4 linked regions of the Homo sapiens genome follow. The protein of the gene in region 4 interacts with the protein of the main gene of each other region in a pairwise test. Each region holds a gene or a part of one and is shown on either strand. Other genes may lie near its edges.

Region 1 (5,148 bases), on a different chromosome or scaffold from region 4:
GGTTTCACCGTGTTGGCCAGGCTGATGTCGAACTCCTGACCTCAAGTGATCCACCAGCCTTGGCCTCCCAAAGTGCTAGGATTACAGATGTGAGCCACCGCACCCGGCCTTTGAAGGTTATGCAAGTTTACATGGTAAATTATATAACCACTCTACCCGATGACTTTGGCAAATTATTTAACCTTTCTGGGTCTCTATTTAGAAAAGAATGGACCTAAGAGTAGATAACGCTTAAGGCTTCCTCTCACTCCAAGTTCTGTGACTCAGGGTGAGACTAAAAGCCAGATAAAGGGGTAGGTGTGTGTGGGAGTAAGAAAAGTGAGACATAGGATAACTGAAACCCATATAAGGTAGGACCTAAAAACTTTCTTCTCTCTAGTGGTTTCTTCTAGTTTCCTTTTGGGAACAACTCACCAATTAGCTGTTTAAGGATTTTCCTTAGGGCAAAGTACTGTCGGGGAAAATTGCTGAAGTTCTTTTCCAGCTCTATGGATACTGAAGTCACCTCCATGGTCTTCACCTTTTCACATCTAGGAGGGATAGGGAGATAGGGGAAGAAAGGGCAGGGTTAGGGAGAAGCTCCAGCCAAGTGACTATTCAGATGTTAACATTTTTAGGGAGAAATTAAAATTCTCCATCTTCCCACTTTCTTCCTCCTCCCTGAAAAGCTCACCTGTTGATTTCTTTTACTAATCCAAGGAGAGCCTTATGATCCCGTGGACAGATCGTTGAGAGTGAGCCTCCGAACTTTCTAGGAATATTCCTGTATTTCATGCAAATGGATGATTGCCCTCCCTGCTCTCCCAACCCCTTCCTCCTGCCATCTTGTTTGGACACAATTCCACCCACTGGCACAAGTAGAATCTGATTCTACCTTATCATTCTCCTTCTCAAGAAGTCCTGATGTTCAAAGGGGAAAAGGGATTATTATTCCCAATAATTTGTTCTCTAACTGGCTTCATGGGCACAATGAACATTCTCCCATACCCTGCCCAGACACACTACATGACTTTCCCAACCTCACCCCCAACCCAAACTCCTGACTGTACCCCTCCTCTCTAAGCCAAGACCTAACTCACTCAGAGAGATACAACAATCACTTACTTTTCCAGGGTACTTTTGACATCCTAGAAGGAAGGAGAAAAGAAAGCAATATTGGTCCTGGTATTCAGTGGTCCTGAAGGCAAAAGGTTCCCCCTCCTCCCCAAAGTTCCACAGCTATAAAATAGGGATAGGATAAACTGAGGGTCACACAGTGCAAGAAGAGCTCCAGCGGGACCTGAATGCACTTCTCCCAACCTAATCCCTACTTTCAACTTCTGGTCATCATGAAGCTTGGTCATTTATATCACTTCCCAATGATTTCTTTTATGCTTGTCTTTGCTCCTCAAGGATGCTGGGAGCTCCCTATAAGGGACAGGGATTGTATCAATTCTTTACTCTGTCCCCCAAGTACCAACCACATATCTCACTCTCCTTGAGGATAAGTACAGAGAGTTCCAGACTGGTGGCATAGGAACAAATCACACATTCCTGTTACGGTTTGGTATCCCCTGTCTTGCATTAGTTAATAAACATCAATAACTGGCTGGGCACAGTAGCTCACGCCTGTAATCTGAGCGCTTTGGGAGGCCAAGACGGGTGGATCACTTGAGGTCAGGAGTTCAAGACCAGCCTAGCCAACATGGTGAAACCCTGTCTTTACTAAAAATACAAAAATTAGCCAGGTGTGGTGGTGTGCGCCTGTAACCCCAGCTACTCAGGAGGCTGAGGCAGGAGAATCGCTTGAACACAGGAGGCAAAGGTTGCAGTGAGCCGAGATCATGCACTGCACTCCAGCCTGGGCGACAGAGCAAGACTCTCTCAGAAAAAAAAAAAAGGAAGAATAAACACATTAATAACTGTGTGCTAATACTGATTTGTGAATACTTGGGGTCCAGAAGACAAAGAAGACAAATCTCTGTCCCACAAGGATTTCCCAGTTTAATATGGAAGGCAGAACACACATACATGAAAGGCCATAGGAACAAATACCAAGCAATACGTAACATAAAAATAAATGTACAATGAAGCCTCACTGCTTCAAATGCTGGTAATCTAATCTCTAAGATAAAAAATATGTTCCCTAGTTTTGCTAACACCATTCATTTACGTAAGAGAACAAAATATTTCAAACACTTTAGAGGTATTATTAATATATACATATCAAAAGCAATATATTATTTAAACAATTTCAGGCATACCTCATTTTATTGCACCTCGCTTTATTGTGTTTTGTTGACATTGTATGTTTTTCAGATAGATGGTTTGTGGCAACCTGTGTTGAGCAAGTCTACTGGCACCATGTTTTCCAACAGCATGTGTTCACTTCATGTCTCTGTGTCACATTTTGGTAATTCTCACAATATTTCACACTTTTTCATTATTATATCTAGTATGATCTGTGATCAGTGATCTTTGATGTTACTATTGTAATCGTTATGGGGGCACTGTGAACTGCATCCATATAAGACGAACAACTTAATCGATAAATATATTTTATGTGTTCTAACTGATCCACTACCAGCTATTCCCTCATCTTTCTCCATCTCCTCTGGCCTCCCTATTCCGAGACACAACGATATTAAAATTATATCAATTAATAATCCTGCAATGGCCTCTAAGTGTTCATGTGAAAGAAGAATCACATGTCTCTCACTTTAAATCAAAACCTAAAAATGTTTAAGCTTAGTGAGAAAGGCACATTGAAAGCCAAGATGGGCTGAAAGCTAGGCCTCTTGTGCCAAACACCAAGCCAGGCTGTGAATGCTAAGGAAAAGTTATTGAAGAAAATTAAAAGTGCTACTCCAGTGAACACATGAATGATAAGAAAGTGAAACAGCTTTATTGCTGAGATGGAGAAAATTTTAGTGATCTGGATATAAGATCACATGATTCCCTTAAGCCAAAGCCCAATCCAGAGCAAGGCTGTTAACTCCTTCAGTTCTATGAAAGCTGAGAGAGGTAAGGAAGCTGCAGAAGAAAAGTTTAAAGTTAGGTAGGTTGTTTTAAGAAAAGAAGCCATCTCTGTAACAAAAATGTGCAAGGAGAAGCAGCAAGTGCTGATGCAGAAGTTGCAGCAAGTTATCCAGAAGATCTTGCCAAGATTACTGATGAAGGTGGCTACACTAAACAACACATTTTCAATGTCAACAAACAGCCTTCTATTGAAGAAGGTGCTATCCAGGGCTTTCACAGTTCGAGAGAAGTCAATGCCTGGCTTTAAAGCTTCAAAGGACAGGATGACTTTCTTATTAGAAGCAAGGGCAGCTGGTGACTTTAAGTTGAAACCAGTGCTCACTTACCATTTCAAAAATCCTAGGGCTCTTAAGAATTATGCTAAATCTACTTTCCTTGTGCTCTAGAAATGGAATAACAAAGCCTACATGACAGTACACCTGTATACAGCATGGTATACTGAATGTTTTTAATTAAAAAAAATTACCTTTTGTAGAGATGGGGTCCTGCTATATTGCCCAGACTGGTCTTGAATTCCTGGCCTTAAGCAGTCCTCCTGGCTTGATCTCTCAGAGTGCTGGGATTACAGATGTGAGCCAACGTGCCTAGCCTTTACTGAAGTTTTTTTTGGGGGGATGGAGTTTCACTCTTGTCACCCAGGCAGGAGTGCAACTGCATGATCTTGGCTCACTGCAACCTCTGCCTCTCGGGTTCAAGCGATTCTCCTCCCTCAGCCTCCCGAGTAGCTGGGATTACAGGCGCCCACCACCATGCCCAGCTAATTTTTTTGTATTTTTAGTAGAGATTGGGCTTCACCATGTTGGCCAGGCTGGTCTCAAACTCCTGACCTCAGGTGATCCACCTGCCTTGGCCTCCCAAAGTGATAGGATTACAGGTGTAAGCCACCGTGCCCAACCCTTTACTGAAAATTTTAAGTTGAGACCTACTGCTCAGAAAAAAAGATTCCTTTCAAAATATTACTGCTCACTGACAATGCACTTGATCACCCAAAAGTTCTGATAGAGATGTAAAATGAGATTCATGTTGTTTTCACGTCCGCTAACACAACATCCAATCGGCAGCCCATGGATCAAGAAGTAATTTGGACTTTCAAGTCTTAATAAATGTATTTCATAAAGCTGCTATAAATAGTGATTTTTCTGATAGATCTAGGCAAAGTAAATTGAAGGCTTTCTGGTAAGGATTCACCATTCTAGATGCCATTAAGAACATTTGTGATTTGTGAAAGGAAGCCAAAATATCAATATTAACAGGCATTTAGAAGAAGTCTATTCCAACCCTTATGGATGACTTTTAGGGGTTCAAGACTCCCATGTTGTAAGTAACTGCAAATGTGGGTTTTCAAAGATTTTCAAAGAAGTTCTACTGGTGAGTAAAATGCTATTAAACAGCATCACATGCTCAGAGATATCTTTCATAAAAGGAAGAGTTGAAAGTAAACTTCGTCGTTGTCTTATTTTAAGAAATTACCACAGTCACCCCAATCTTCAGCAACCACCACCTCGATCAGTCAATACTAACACAAGACCCTCCACCAGCAAAAATATGATTCCACTAGGAAACCCAACAATTAATGTGACTTGCTTTATCAAGATACTCGCTTTATTGAAGTGGTATGGAACTGAACCCACAATATCTCTGAGGTATGCCTGTATCCTTTAAACTATGTTTCTGTCCTTTTTCAGCAGTACATAAATCAAATTTCAGGACTTAAAAGTAATGGTAACTGCATTTACAAAATTTTTAATGCATAGTTTTTCACTAACTCAGGCTAGACTTCCCTCCTTTCAAAAGAATGAATCTTTTCTTTGGAACAGATTAAGCACATAATTGCTGACCAGAGATAAGAACACAAAAATGGTTAGAAGGGGATGGGAGAAATCACTTTTCCGTAGCAAAGACCCTTTGAGTACACCTGGCAGAAAGAACTGGATTTAGAGAAGGAGAGCAGAAGAATGAGTATCCCAGGCTGACAAATCCCAGGCTACGCAAAGCTACGCTGCACTCAGCCTGAGGGGCTATGCAGGGGCAAAGGTCGAACCTTAAGCATCTCGAAGCCTGACTGTAAGCACTTGCCCTCCACCTCGGCAGCCAAGTGGGCCAGGTCCCGGCGCTTGTCCCCAAGGTGAG
Region 2 (4,353 bases), on a different chromosome or scaffold from region 4:
TATTTATTTCTTCATGATCTTCAAAATCTCCCAATAAACCTGTTACAGAATTTTTACAATTGATTTAGCTGTCAAATTTGCCACTTTAGGGCTGGGAGCGGTCATGCCTGTAATCCCAGCTATGCGGGAGGCTGAGTGAAGCAGGTGAATCGCTTGAACCCAGGTGGCGGAGGCTGCAGTAAGCCAAGGTCACATCACTGCACTCCAGCCTGGGTGACAGAGCGAGACTCTGACTCAAAAAAAAATTTGTCACTTTGAATTGCATTTCTGCTAAGATTCTATTCCAATATACTTGAAGAACATTTATTACAAAAGCAAAATGGCAAGTAGGACAAGCACACAACCAAAATGTGTGAAGTTCAAAGTTTACTACAGTAAATTAGCATAAAGACCTTAAAGTTTTCCTGTTTCTACAATAATGCTATCCAAGTAAAATTTAAAAGATCTGCTACTTTCCCAAAAATAAACTACACCGTAACTATAGTGCTGAACTTTAACCACTAAACAGGTATAACTTTAGTTGTCAAAGTGATTAGAAAGCAACCACACAAATCAGCATATGCTTACATACTATGTAAAAGGACTAAACGAAGTTACAATATTCCAACTCATGTTCCCTACAGTACAATTTTATACAATTCCTTAAAACTTAGTGATTATTTTGAGCCCAATAATCCCATGAAATATGGAAATTAATCCCTCTTGAAGGAATAATTTACTCGTGTTTTTTATTCCGTACCTGTTATGTTATTTTATTTATTTATTTATTTGAGACACAGTCTTGCTCTGTCACCCAGGCTGCAATGCAGTGGCGCAATCTCACCTCACTGCAACCTCCACCTCCTGGGTTCAAGTGATTCTCCTGCCACAGCCTCTCGAGTAGCTGGGACTATAGGCATGTGCCACCATACCTAGCCAATTTTTATTTTTAGTAGAGATGGGGTTTCACCATGTTGGCCAGGCTGGTCTCGAACTCCTAACCTCGAATGATCCACCCACCTCGGCCTAGAGTGATCTGCCCACCTCAGCCTCCCAAAGTGGTGGGATTACAGGCATGAGCCACCACGCCCGGCCTTATTTTATCCTGAATTATTAAAGGCCCCTGTTCCAACTGACTAACGTAAAAATGTTATTCCGGTTCACTAGGTCCTTAGACCTTTTATGTGCTCTGCTGGTTTATTGTTTTGAGGAAATGATGGAAAGATCATCCTTTTCTATTTCTAAATAGTTCTCACCAGGGATAATTTTGCCACCACCTCTTTCCAGGGGGACATTTTAGACGGTCATAACTGAGAAAGGGGGTGCTACTGGCATCTAGCAGGAAGAGGCCAAGGATGCTGCTAAAAGTCCTACAACGCACAGGGCAGCCCCCAAGACCAAGAATTATCCAGCCCAAAATGTCAGGAGGACAGAGATGAGAAATCCTGGTATAGTGGTTAAGAGGGAAAATTATGGGAGACTAGACTACCTTAGTTCAAATCCAACTCCACTACTTACTATGTGAATGACCCCAAGGAAGTTGACTTCTGAGCCTCAGTTTCCTCATTTCAAACTAAGGGATAGAGTACCTAACTCACAGGAATACAGTGAGAATTATGTAGGAATACGTGCTTAGTTAAAACTTAAAAAAAAAAAAAAAAAGACTGTAGCAAGTTAAAGTACGAAAGTAACATGCAATCATCCCTTTTAGTTTGTACTCCTTTTCAAATATTAACAGATATACTGACATCCTCCACCTTCTATTTAGTATCTCCCTCTATCAAGTACCAAATGTAACTGCTCTAATCACATTATCTAATATAATCTCCTATACTTACATTCTACTTTAATAAATTAACCATATATCGTCTTCTGAAAGAAATAAAAAGAAGTTATTTTACACTGTTTAGTATATCCAGGTGTTTGAAATATAGAGCATTAAAACTAACTCTTTTTGTAGTCTTCCTTCATTTACACTATCATCAAACCTACAAAGTATATTTTCTTTGGTCCCAGAACAAGCATGGGTCACTTGGATAATCACATAATCCAGAGCTATTACATAATTTTGTCTGATCCCATTTTAGAACTGAAGAAATTGAGGTTCAGAGCTTGCCAACTTGTCCAACTGGACAATTAACTGCAGAAACTAGAACTTGATCAATTCCCTGATTATGAAGTAACAGAAATATGTAGAAGCATCCTCTTCCTTTAAATTCCAAACAGGGCAATCAACAGAAAATTAACCTTGAATAGTATTGACAGTGATTATTGCTCTCACATTCAAGAACAATTACCCCTCTTCTAGGAAATCAGTAACTAACTTTTTAGGAGCTAACTTCAATTCTTACCCAACTAAGTTTCCTTCAGTCTTAAGCAGATACCTATTTACAGATTCTCTAAAAAGGTCTCCCTAATTAGTATAACTCATTACACACCTACTTGTTTTCTTATTGCACTACTGTGTTATAATTTTAATACTCATTTCATTTTCAAAATCCATCCATCGAACATGAAATTTTTGGGGTGGCAATGAGCACTACTGGTGAAGAAACAGTCTATCATGAATAGAGATTTAGTATTTCCTATCTCTCAGAGAAAAAACTCTCCACCCTTTAACAAAATGTATTAAGATATTTGGACAGCTAATATTTAAGACATTTTCAGAAGAACATTCTGTAAAATACAAAGAAAATATGTGAGATAGGCCAGGCATGGTGGCTCACAGCTGTAATCCCAGCACTTTGGGAGGCAGAGGTGGGCGGATCACCTGAGGTCAGGAGTTTGAGACCAACCTGGCCAACATGACGAAACCCCACCCCTACTAAAAAAAAAAACACAAAAATTACCAGGCATGGTGGCGCCTGTAACCCAGCTACTCAGAAGACTGAGGCAGGAGAATCTCTTGAACCCGGGAGGTGGAGGTTCCAGTGAGCCGAAAGAGTGCCACTGCACTCCAGCCTGAGTGACAAAGTGAGACTCTGTCACCCAATACAAAACAAAAAAAAAGCTAGACAGATTTTTCATCTTGCCAATTTACCAAAATTCCAGTTATTTACAATTCTGATTATTTTCACAAATATGGTTCATAGTAAGAGTTCAATAAACACTTAGATCACTGGTGTTTCCCTATGACTCTCAAACGTTCAAGTCTTCTTTAAAGAGATGTTATGCATTTAACAAGTCTGATCAACACCTGTTATTTTCCAATTAGTGTATAAATATTAAAATTTATACAATTTTTAAGTATACAAATTTCACTCACATTTGATTTTTTGCTGCTTGCCTCTGAGCTTTTCTTTCTTTCCTTTTCTGATCTGGTGGCTTGGCAAAAACAATTTCAATATTTTCTCCCTCCAAGTCTTTGCCATTCATTTCTTCCATAGCCTTAAAAAATTAGATAAGTCAATATAAAAATAGGACTTTCATACAATTATGATTCATTTAAAGTTGGAATATCATTTATCATTAATGTGGGAAGGACAAGAGAAAGCCCCATGCAGGCAGTCAAATAATTTTATTTAAAGATGCAGATATTCAATTATTTTTCATTTTTACTTAGAAAACTGCCAACATCACTAAAACCAAAAGGTTTTAGTTTGAATGGATTCCATGGACTTCCAAAGTCTCCTCCAATTTGTAAAACTATTTTGAGATTCTAAAATGACTAAATTTGTTAGTCTGATTTAGATGCCTGTAATTCCACCATATTTACCTTGACAGCACCATCTCGCTCATCAAAATGAATGAACGCATAATCTTTTAACTTCTTCACTCGTTCCAGTTTCCCAAACTGACTAAATGCCTTTTCTAAAATCTCTTCTGTTACAGTATTGGCAAGGTTGCGTACAAACAGCACTTTTACCTAGGGGGAAGAAAATACCCCCCTGTATTATTTCCAAAGAGTTCCATTTCTAAGATACCACCACCCCACCCTACAAAGTTAACTCAAATCACAATCCATTAGAAGAATGTCAGAATATAAAAAAAAAAAAAGTTTTCAACTCCTTGGGTAAATATCAAGCAGCAGAACTGCTGGATCATGTTGAAAGACCTGAAATAGATGCTTTGCCAAAAAAGATATACAGATGGCAAAGAATCTCATGAAGATGCTCAATATAATCTGTCATTCGGAAACCGCAAGTCAAAACTATTAGAATGGCCAAAATCCAACACACTATAAATGCAGGTAAGAATGCAGAGCAATAGAAACTCTCATTCATTGCTGGTGGGAATGCAAAAGGGTATAGCCCCTTTGAAAGACAGTTTGGCGATTTCTTACAAAACTAAACACACACTTCCATATGACCCAGCAATCCTGCTCCTTATTTACCCAGAGTTGAAAACTTACATGCACACAAAAACTTAGAGAGA
Region 3 (5,148 bases), on a different chromosome or scaffold from region 4:
TATCTCTAGAGATGTTGTGAGAATTAAATACAATATAAAACATACGGCACAGAGCTTAATAGCTATCTGCATAAAAGCAATATAGCTTGGTAGTTAGAAGCATGGATGGTAGAGCCAGACTGCCTGGTTCAAATCCCACCTCTACCATTTCTTAGCTGTGTGATCTAGGCAGTTACTTGACCTCTCTGTATGTCAGCTTCTCTATATGTAAAATGGGAATAATAACAGCACCTATATCATAGATTGGTGTGAGGATTAAATGTAATAATATGTGTAAAACATTCAGAGAGTGCTATAGAATTGTTAGCTATTATTATTTGTATATATGAGAGAGAAACAGAGAAACCCTGGCTTGGGAGGCGCCTCTCCCCTACTCCTCACTCCATTTTGGTGCTGCTTCTTGCCTTCTGGGGCAAGATAAATCTCCAATCATTAGGCACAGCATGGTAACCACCTGGCCCTGGTCAGTCTTCATGCTCCCCTGGGGTTCACCCCTGTGCCAGAACTAGAGAGTGGCTTGGCGCTGGCTTTCACTGGAAGGGCACCAGAGGATGATGGGAGCTGAAGAGAGGAGCGACACTCACATCATAGGCGCCGGCTTTGATCTGCTGGTACAGGCGGTGCTGGTCCTCATCCCAGAACGGGGGGTACCCAACCAGCAGGATGTACAGGATGACCCCTGGAAAGAGGACCAGAGAACCTTCAACCCCCTGTGGGGAGGAGACATGGGGGGAGGGGAGTGATGGGAAAGGAGAGAGGGGGCCCCAGAGGCCGGGGTGCAGCCAGGGGCACAAAAGGGCCTTAGGATGAACTCACCACAAGCCCACAGGTCCACAGGCTTCCCGTACGGGTCCTTCCGCAGCACTTCTGGGGAGAGATATCCAGGAGTCCCTGCAAACCCTGCTCCCAGACACACAGACAGGCAGACACATACACAGAGGTTGTCTCGTAAGTAACCTGGAGCAAGATCCTGCTGGAAGAGGGGATGAGGATTGCTCTGGAGCTGAGGAAAACAGCCCCTGCCCCTCAGGTGCACTTGGGCTTGTATTGTGCAACCCCAGTCGGCCCAAGACATAAGCCTGATGAGCCAGCAAAGCCTCTAGATCAGATCGACAACTACCTAGCACACCTGTCACCACTTCCCACTTCAGAGCCAGTGGTAATCAGCCACAGAACTCCTTCCTACTGGGTCCTGACTCAGGATCATAAGCTTCTCAGCACCACTCTTCCAGGAGCCACTAGTGATCCATTGCTGGTGGCTTCAAGATGAAATGCACCTGCCATGTCAGCCCCAGGCTGAGAGCTAAGCCCACTCTGCACCCCCTTGTTGGAGTTGGTCATGGGATGTCGGGAGGCCTGTCCTAACTGACTTTGCCCCTTGGGTACGTCTCTTTATCTTCTAGTCCTTGTTTCCTCATCTGTCAAATGAAGGATTAGGGATTCCTATCTTAAGTGCCTCCCAGGGTTGTTGAGCCGGTCAGTTCAAATAATGGACACCTGAGGTATTCTAACAAGCACTTTTAAGAACACTTACAAGTTACCGAGTGTGTATGCTAAGCATTGGGCTGAGCACTTCATATGCCTGGTCACATTTAATTCTGACACCACTCCTGAGGGACACACAATTATTATTCCCATTTTACAGATGAGGAACGAAGGCACAGAGAGGTGAAGTGACTTAGCCAAAGTCACATACCTCATAAGTAGCAGAGTCGGGATTTGAACCCAGAACTCTGGTTCTTAACCATGGCTCAATATTGCCCACTAAAAAGTACTCCCAGGTAGCTTAAAGAGACCCAGTTATACCAAAATCACAAAGCAGGCTGGATCATCTGAGTTAAGTCCTGGTCTATCCCTTTTAAACTTTCTTGACCTTCTGCAAGTTTTCTGCCAGTTTTTTCCTCATCTATAAAATCAGGATAATAATCTCAAGCACCTAGACTATTAGGGCAGCTCTGTGGAAACTTCCCTAAGGCCTTCAACCACAGGGAGCCCTTTGGGGAGGAGAGATGGCGGAGGGGAGTGACAGGAAAGGAGAGAGGGGGCCCCAGGGAGCCCTGTGGAAGGCCGTAGGGTCCCATGCCTGAACCCTGGGGACACAGATAGGTGCTGCCCACTGGCTCAGAGGCTGGGTGGGACAGGGCCTCTGCTCTACCAGCCCCGGCTGGCCCAACAGCATCTCCAGCCATACCCACTCAGGCAGGGGGTTCCCAGAGGCTTATGTGTCAACACAAATGGGTGCTGACCCCCAACACTTCTGCCAGCCCACCCCACTTACCAAACCATGCCTGCTGCTCCCCCTCCACCTCTATGGCCAGGCCAAAGTCTGCCAGCTTCACTGCGGCACCCTTGAGCTTGGAGGCCAGCAACAGATTCTCAGGCTTGTCAGGACCAGAGAAGAGGGAGGAAGGGGAGGAAAGCGCCAAGAGACAGTCAGCAGATTCAGAGCCTCACCTCTAGGGGCCTGGGCTCACAGGAAGAACAGCCCGGCCCTCCGGGGCCCCTGCTTTCATCTCCAGCCCCGCCTCAGGCTCCTGAGTCTCAGTCCCCAGAGAGGGGACTATCCTATGGCAAGACCTCCATCCGCTACAACAGAAAGGCCCTTTCTCCATCAGCCACTCCTCCCTCCCCACTTCAAGATCTGGGGCTGGGCTGAGGTGAGAGCGGGGTGGTACATTCACCACCACAATAAAGCAGCAGCAGCAGCAGCAGCATTGATTGTGCCCCTACTATATGTCAGCTGCTGGGTTAAGTGTTCTGCGTGCATCATCTCTTGTATCAACGACCCTTTCGGGTAGGTATTATTACCTACATCTTCCACAGTGGCCTTCCTATGCCCCTTGAAACAGTCCATCTTGTTTCCACCTCAGGGCCTTTGCACTTCCTGTTTTCCTCCTCTAATTTTTTCTCCCCCAAGCTTCAAAGTGGCCCCTTTACTTTGTCCAGCCCTCAGTCTCATGTCACCCCATGGAGGAGGCCATCCAAGTTTACTCTATCTAGAGGGGAAGCCCTCAGGCATCCTGTGTCTTTGCTCCTGTTGTTACCTTCATAGATCTCATCACAATTTGCAGTGTTTTCTCCCATCTGTCTATGTGCTTGTTTATCATCTGTCAGCCCTGGGGAATGTGAGTTCCTTATCTGTCCTGTTCACCACTGTATCACCAGCACCTAGGTTGGGGGGCCACACAGCAGGCACTTAATAAGTATTTGTCACGTATATAAAGATGAGAAAACTGAAGCTCAGAGAGGTTAAGTGACTTGGCCAAGATCACGCAGCTGGTAAGGGATAGAGCCAGAATCGAGGCAAAGTCTGACTCTATCTTAACTGCTCTAGGCTGAAAGATGATGAGGCTTATACATGGGGCCAGCAGCTGACTTGGGAAGGTCCCACACCTGGCCTCTGGGCATCGAGGCTGCTGCTTTGCACTGGCTCAGCCTCCAGAATTCCTCCACTTCCTGCTGGTCCCTTCACCCTGAGACTCAGGATGGAGGGGCGCTAAGACTGTGGGCTCGCTTAGATAGTCCCAGTTTCTGATCCCGATGCTGCCCACCTCTATGCCATGACATATGGGCAAATTATTTCACTTCTCTGAGCTTTAGTTTCCTCTGAGAAAAATGCTTACCTTATGGGGTGGTGCATGGATTAACTGAGATAATCTGTGTAAGCACTTCGCTGTGGCCTACAGTAAGTGCTTGGTAAATGTTAGTACTTCTATTTTTGGCTTGGGGAGGGGCTCAGAGTCTCTGAAGACTGTTGGTTTTGAGTCCTCCTCTGATCCCCTTCCCAGTGGGACTTCTGAAGGGTCCCACCTCTGACCTTTCACTGTCTAAAGCTAGGCTGGACCCAAACAAATATAGCTCCCTCCGCCTGGCTCAAAGGCCTCCTTTGTCCTCTGGGGACAATGTTCCTAACATGTCCTGGGTCTCGGTAACCGTCCTGCCCTGATTTGATGAATGTGTCACTAATTATTATATCCAGAGTGGCCTAAATTTGGGCTGCCTCTCCTCCTTCCTCCTCCAGTGCAGGGGCTGCAGCTATAATGGGAACAGGCCCTCTGGGAGAGGTGCCCTGCAGTCTGGCTGGAGACCCTCTTGGAGTGCACACTCGTCTCATCTAGACTGAGCCACAGGGAGCTTGCCTAGGGCTCAGGAGAGAAGCCGTGTCTGCCCAGGACAGTCAGAGAGGGGCAGGGTCTCTCTTCAGAGCATTGTGCCCCAAAGAGGGACCCAGACCAGTGGAAGCATGCCCAGGGAAGGTGCCCAGGATGAGGCTGGCCTGAAAATCACACTCCGGGAGGACCGTGGCAGGGGTGGGTACACCCTGCAGGGGACTTAGCAGCTACAACAAAGCTGCTGGAGTCCGTCTAGGGCTCTTCCAAGCTGGAGGTTTGGTCTCTGTGTGGTTCCAAATGGCAGAACTGAGGTTCAGGGCAAAGCCCCTCCAGCAGGGAAGAGTGTTCCCCAGTGGTGCAAGGGGCTACCCCATGGGAAGTGAGTTTGCTGTCACTGAAGAACAAAAAGCAGAGGTTTGATGGACATCTGGCAGGGTCACCCTAGAAGGGGCTGCTGAGGAAGCAGGAGCTGGATAGAGTGACCTTTTGGCACCAGACTCCCAAGGTCACAGGATCAGGGGTTAGAAGGCCAGAATTCCCCCGCCCTAGCTAAGGACAATTGAACTGCATGTTCTTGGGCAAATTGCTTGAACTCTTAGGCCTTAGTTTCCTGCTCTGCAAAATGGAGACAATATGAACTACCAGCCACTGATACCATGAGGATCAGCAGCGGAGATCCATGAAGTCCCTGCTGAAGGAGCAAGGCTGTGCAGCTGGTGCCAGTCCTAGACTCTGCAATCTCCTTCAGGTAAAAGAAAGGAGAACTGCACGGGCCTAGAGTCTGGTTTTTCTTCTCCCCTGGCCTGCCAGAGATGCAGGAACAAGACTAAGAATGCATCTGTATACCAGGCCCCGTGCTATCTCATTTCATATCCTCACCAACCCTTTGCAGAGGTTGCTATGGCAACCCCCATTGTGAAGAATCTGAGGCTCAGGAAGGTCATGCTACTAAAGGCTGCATGGCTGGAAAGTGGCCTGGTTGAGATTTGGACCCAGCCTGCCTTCTTCCCCACCCACCGTAGCCAGTCATGACAGT
Region 4 (4,899 bases):
AATATATTGTAATGAAAGTTACGTGAATGTGCTCTCTCAAAATACCTTATTGTACTATACTCACTTATTTTTGGACGATGGTTGACAATGGGTAACTGAAACTGCAGAAAATCAAACTGCAGATAAGGGTGGACTACTTGGCCACTAGCCCCATGGATTATTGGCACACAGGTGACAAAGAAACACTATTAGAAGTACCTTAACCCTCATCTTGAGCTTTTCTTGAGGCATATTTACATCCAATAATCACTAAACCATTGAACAATACCTTTATAATCCAAGAATAATAAGCACGACAGAATATGAAAACATAGCTAATTCTGACATCTAACAGCTATCCGTTTACTGAATGTTTAATTATGTCCCAAGGTTGTTCTAAGCACCGCAAGGACTCTCCTAATCTTCCCACATTTTTACAGATTAAAAAAATCGAGATACAGAGCCAGTACTTCAGGTTTTAAGAAGAAAAGCCAGGACTCAAAGCAAATCTAATTCTAAAGCCCACGCCCTTAATTACTAAGCTAACTTAACTAAATTATGCTTCAGGAGTTAAAAAATCTCTACCTCCTTGGCAAGTTCAAGTTCTCATACTAAGAGGAAAAAAAAAAAAAAAGACACAAATAATACTGCATTGTTATCCCCTTCTGTAAAGTTGTATTAGCAGTCAGCTTTTATACTATCATTTATGAAAAGGATATTCCCAAAAACCAACTACTTATTATGACTAAACTGGTATGCAAAAAGCCTGGGTTCACCATTAACCAGCTCTGTTTCTCTGAGAAACAATCAACCTCCTTGGGCCTCAATTTCCTGATTTTATAGATGAGAAGTTTGGCCTAGATCTGTTTCAGCTCTGAAATTCAATACATTTTGGCACATTTTCTAAGACACTATATTTTTCTTAAGAAAGATTTTGAAAAGCATCTTTTGAAAACTTTCAAACTTAAAATACATAATATATACTCACATCTATTCTTTTACTCAAACATACTCAAAACTAATCGGTTATTAGAAGTCAGGAAAGTAACTAGAAAGGCAGGCAGATTCCCATGGTACTGGGAAGGGTCTGTTTCTTGATTTGGATGCCAGTCACACTTTATTACGTACACATTTTACTTTAATATGAAAAAGGGTGGTTTTCCTCCCCAAAAGGTAACCATGAAGAAAGTTAAGATCATGATCTAACTCTAAAACTATGTTTGAGTATGTAAGAGCTGTGCAACCTTTCTGTTCTAAATATGCAAATGTGCTTCTTGAATAATTGTATCAATAATCTCTTTGTTCCATAGTTCCAATTCATGTGCCTAAAGAAAAGTTCATTTACTTAAGAATCTCGGCCAGGCGCGGTGGCTCACGCCTGCAATCCCAGCACTTCGGGAGGCCAAGGCTGGCAGATCACCTGAGTCCCGGAGTTCGAGACCAGCCTGACTGACCACCATGGAGAAACCCGGTCTCTACTAAAAATACAAAATTAGCTGAGCGTGGTGGTGCATGCCTGTAATCCCAGCTTCTCGGGAGACTGAGGCAGGAGAATCGCTTGAACCCGGGAGGCAGAGGTTGCAATGAGCTGAGATTGTGCCACTGCACTCCAGCCTGGGCAACAAGAGCAAAACTGTCTCAGAAAAAAAAAATTGCAATATTACCAGAATTCCTTTGGGACTGTCTCCTGAAATTTGAGGTCAGTCTTAACTTTCCTCTAGAACTCAGCTCAAGAAGGCTGGGTGAGGTGGCTCATGCCTATAATCCCAGCACTTTGGGAGGCTGAGGCAGGAGGACTGCTTGAAGCCAGGAGTTCAAGACCAACCTGGGCAACACAATGAGACCCCATCTCTACAAAAAATAAAAATTAGCCAGGTGTGGTGGCACACACCTGTAGTCCCAGCTACTCGGGAGGCTGAGGTGGAAGGCCTGCTAGAACCCAGGAGGTCAAGGCTGCAATGAGCTATGATTGTGCCCCTGGGCGACAGAGTGAGACCCCATCTCAAAAAAAAAAAAAAGGCACCTAGCTCAAGAACCTCCCTCATACAGTCATACAGGCCAGGCACGACGGCTCATGCCTGTAATCCCAGCACTTTGAGAAGCCAAGGCAGGCGGATCACCTGAGGTCTGAAGTTCGAGACCAGCCTGGCTAGAAACCCCATCTCTACTAAAAATAGGAAAATTAGCTGGGTATGGTGGCATGCGCCTGTAATCCCAGCTACTGGGTCAAGCAGGAGAACTGCCTGACCTGGGAAGCAGAAGCTGCAGTGAGCCAAGATCATGTCACCGCACTCCAGCCTGGGTGAGAGAGTGAGATTCCATCTCAAACAAAACAAAACAAAAAAACTCCAGGTGGGGTGGCTCACACATGTAAGCCCAGCACTTTGGGAGGCCAAGACAGCCAGATCACCTGAGGTCAGGAGTGTGAGACCAGCCTGGTCAACATGGTGAAATCCAGTCTCTACTAAAAATACAAAAAAAATTAGCCGGGTGTGGTGGCGCATGCCTGTAATTCCAGCCATTCTGGAGGCTGAGGCCTGAGAATCACTTGAAGCCAGGAGGCGGAGGCTGCAGTGAGCCGAGATAAAGCCACTGCACTCCAGGCTGGGTGACAGAGACTCTGACTCAAAACAAAACAAAAACAAAAAAGAACCTCCCTCATTCAAATACCCTCAGAATCCCATAGCATTTACACTTTGCCCCTCCCATTTTTATCTATCCTTTGTCCTGTATCTCCAACCAATTAAGCCTTTTGGGGCTGTGGTCAACATGTTCGGTAACTGTTAATAATGTATTCACTGGGAAATAAGAGTATATAGTCTTGGCTGGGCATTGTGGCTCACACTTGTAATCTTATCACTTTGGGAGACCAGCCTGGCCAACATCATAAAACCCTGTCTCTACTAACAATATAAAAAATTGGCTGGGCGGTGGGGCGCGCCTGTAATCCCAGCTACTTGGTAGGCTGAGGCAGGAGAACCGCTTGACCTGGGAGGTGGTGGCTGCAGTGAGCTTGGATCATGCTACTGGACTCCAGCCAGGGTGACACAGTGAGATTCCATCTGGGAAAAAAAAAAAAAAAAAGTCCAGGCATGCCAGGCATGGTGGCTCACCATTTAAGCCAAGCACTTTGGGAGGCCCAGGCAGGCAGATCATCTGAGGCCGCGAGTTTAAGACCAGCCTGGCCAATACAATGAAACCCTGTCTCTACTAAAACTACAAAAATTAGCTGGGTATTGTGGCCGGACAGGGTGGTTCACACCTGTAATCCCAGCACTTTGGGAGGCCAAGGCAGGCAGATCACGAGGTCAGGAGATCGAGACCATCCTGACTAACACGGTGAAACCCCGTCTCTACTAAAAAAAAAATACAAAAAATTAGCTGGGAGTGGTCGTGGACGCCTGTAGTCCCAGCTACTCAGGAGGCTGAGGCAGGAGAATGGCATGAACCTGAGAGGCGGAGCTTGCAGTGAGCTGAGATAGCGCCACTGCACTCCAGCCTAGGTGACAGAGCGAGACTCCGTCTCAAAAAAGAAAATTAGCTGGGCATGGTGGCGCATGCCTGTAATCCCGGGATCCCAGCCATTCCAGAGGCTGAGGTATTGGTTGAACCTGGGAGGCGGAGGTTGCAGTGAGCTGAGATCGCGCCACTGCACTCCAGCCTGGGTGACAAAGCGAGACTCCGTCTCAAAAAAAAAAATTAGCTGGGCGTGGTGGCGCATGCCTGTAATCCCGGGATCCCAGCCATTCCAGAGGCTGAGGTATTGGTTGAACCTGGGAGGCGGAGGTTGCAGTGAGCTGAGATGGAGCCACTGCACTCCAGGCTGGGTGATAGAGCCGAGACTCTGTCACAAAAACAAAACAAAACAACAACAAAAAGGAATCTCTCTCATGCAGATACCCTTTAGAATCCCATAGCATTTACTCTTTGCCCCCACCATTTTTATCTATCCTTTGTCTGCCCTGTATCTCTAACCAGTTAAGCCTTTTGGGGCTATAGTCAATATTTTCAATAACTGTCAATAATGTATTCACGGGAAATAAGAGTATATAGTCTTGGCTGGGCACGGTGGCTCACGCCTGTAATCCCAGCACTTTGGGAGGCCAAGGCAGTTGGATCACTTGAGGTCAGGGGTTCGAGACCAGCCTGGCCAACATGGTAAAACCCTGTCTCTACTAACAATACAAAATATTAGCTGGGCGTGGTGGGGTGCGCCTGTAATACCAGCTACTCAGGAGGCTGAGGCACGAGAGTCGCTTGAACCCGGGAGGCAGAGGCTGTGGTGAGTTGAGATCGTGCCACCATACTCCAGCCTGGACAACAGAGCAAGACTCTGTCTCCCAAAAAAAAAAAAAAAAAAACCCAGGTGCAGTGGCTCATGCCTGCAATCCCAGCACTTTGGGAGGCCGAGGCGGCAGATCACAAGGTCAGGAGCTCGAGACCAGCCTGGCCAATACGGTAAAAACCCGTCTCTACTAAAAATACAAAAACAAAAACAAAAAAAAACAAAAAAAAACATTAGCCATGCATGCTGGCACATGCCTGTAATCCCAGCTACTCAGGAGGCTGAGACAGGAGAATTGCTTGAACCCGGGAGGCGGAGGTTGCGGTGAGCCGAGATGGCGCATTGCACTCCAGCCTGGGCGACAGAGGGAGACTCCGTCTAAAAAAAAAAAAAAAAAAAAAGGTGTATAGTCTTTAAGAAGGGGTGACAGGCCAAGCATGGTGGCTCACGTCTGTAATCCCAGCACTTCAGGTGGCCAAGGCCGGAGGATCACTTCAGTCCAGGAGTTCGAGACCAGCCTGGGCAACATGGTGAAACCCCGTCTCTACAAAAAATTACATAAATTAGCTGGGCATGGTGGCAGACGCCTTTAGTCCCTGCTACTTGGAAGGCTGAGGTAGGAGGATCATCTAAGC

What was found.
Region 1: the proteins of UBE2K (region 4) and TRIM39 interact in binary tests that used the Homo sapiens proteins (3 or more experiments, as listed by UniProt).
Region 2: the proteins of UBE2K (region 4) and SYNCRIP interact in binary tests that used the Homo sapiens proteins (3 or more experiments, as listed by UniProt).
Region 3: the proteins of UBE2K (region 4) and CAMK2A interact in binary tests that used the Homo sapiens proteins (3 or more experiments, as listed by UniProt).

What each region holds. Positions count from the first base shown.
Region 1 is NC_000006.12:30,335,887-30,341,034, reverse strand, and holds part of TRIM39 (E3 ubiquitin-protein ligase TRIM39), read right to left. Parts: coding exon 5,060-5,148; intron 1,128-5,059; coding exon 1,105-1,127; intron 764-1,104; coding exon of another isoform or gene 674-763; intron 531-673; coding exon 415-530; intron 1-414. Other genes in the region: TRIM39-RPP21 protein, read right to left, coding at 415-530, 1,105-1,127, 5,060-5,148.
Region 2 is NC_000006.12:85,615,574-85,619,926, forward strand, and holds part of SYNCRIP (heterogeneous nuclear ribonucleoprotein Q), read right to left. Parts: intron 3,845-4,353; coding exon 3,695-3,844; intron 3,367-3,694; coding exon 3,245-3,366; intron 1-3,244. UniProt on the Homo sapiens protein: Heterogenous nuclear ribonucleoprotein (hnRNP) implicated in mRNA processing mechanisms. Component of the CRD-mediated complex that promotes MYC mRNA stability.
Region 3 is NC_000005.10:150,251,166-150,256,313, forward strand, and holds part of CAMK2A (calcium/calmodulin-dependent protein kinase type II subunit alpha), read right to left. Parts: intron 2,382-5,148; coding exon 2,279-2,381; intron 901-2,278; coding exon 817-900; intron 680-816; coding exon 585-679; intron 1-584. UniProt on the Homo sapiens protein: Calcium/calmodulin-dependent protein kinase that functions autonomously after Ca(2+)/calmodulin-binding and autophosphorylation, and is involved in various processes, such as synaptic plasticity, neurotransmitter release and long-term potentiation.
Region 4 is NC_000004.12:39,704,636-39,709,534, reverse strand, and holds part of UBE2K (ubiquitin-conjugating enzyme E2 K), read right to left. Parts: intron 1-4,899. UniProt on the Homo sapiens protein: Accepts ubiquitin from the E1 complex and catalyzes its covalent attachment to other proteins. In vitro, in the presence or in the absence of BRCA1-BARD1 E3 ubiquitin-protein ligase complex, catalyzes the synthesis of 'Lys-48'-linked polyubiquitin chains.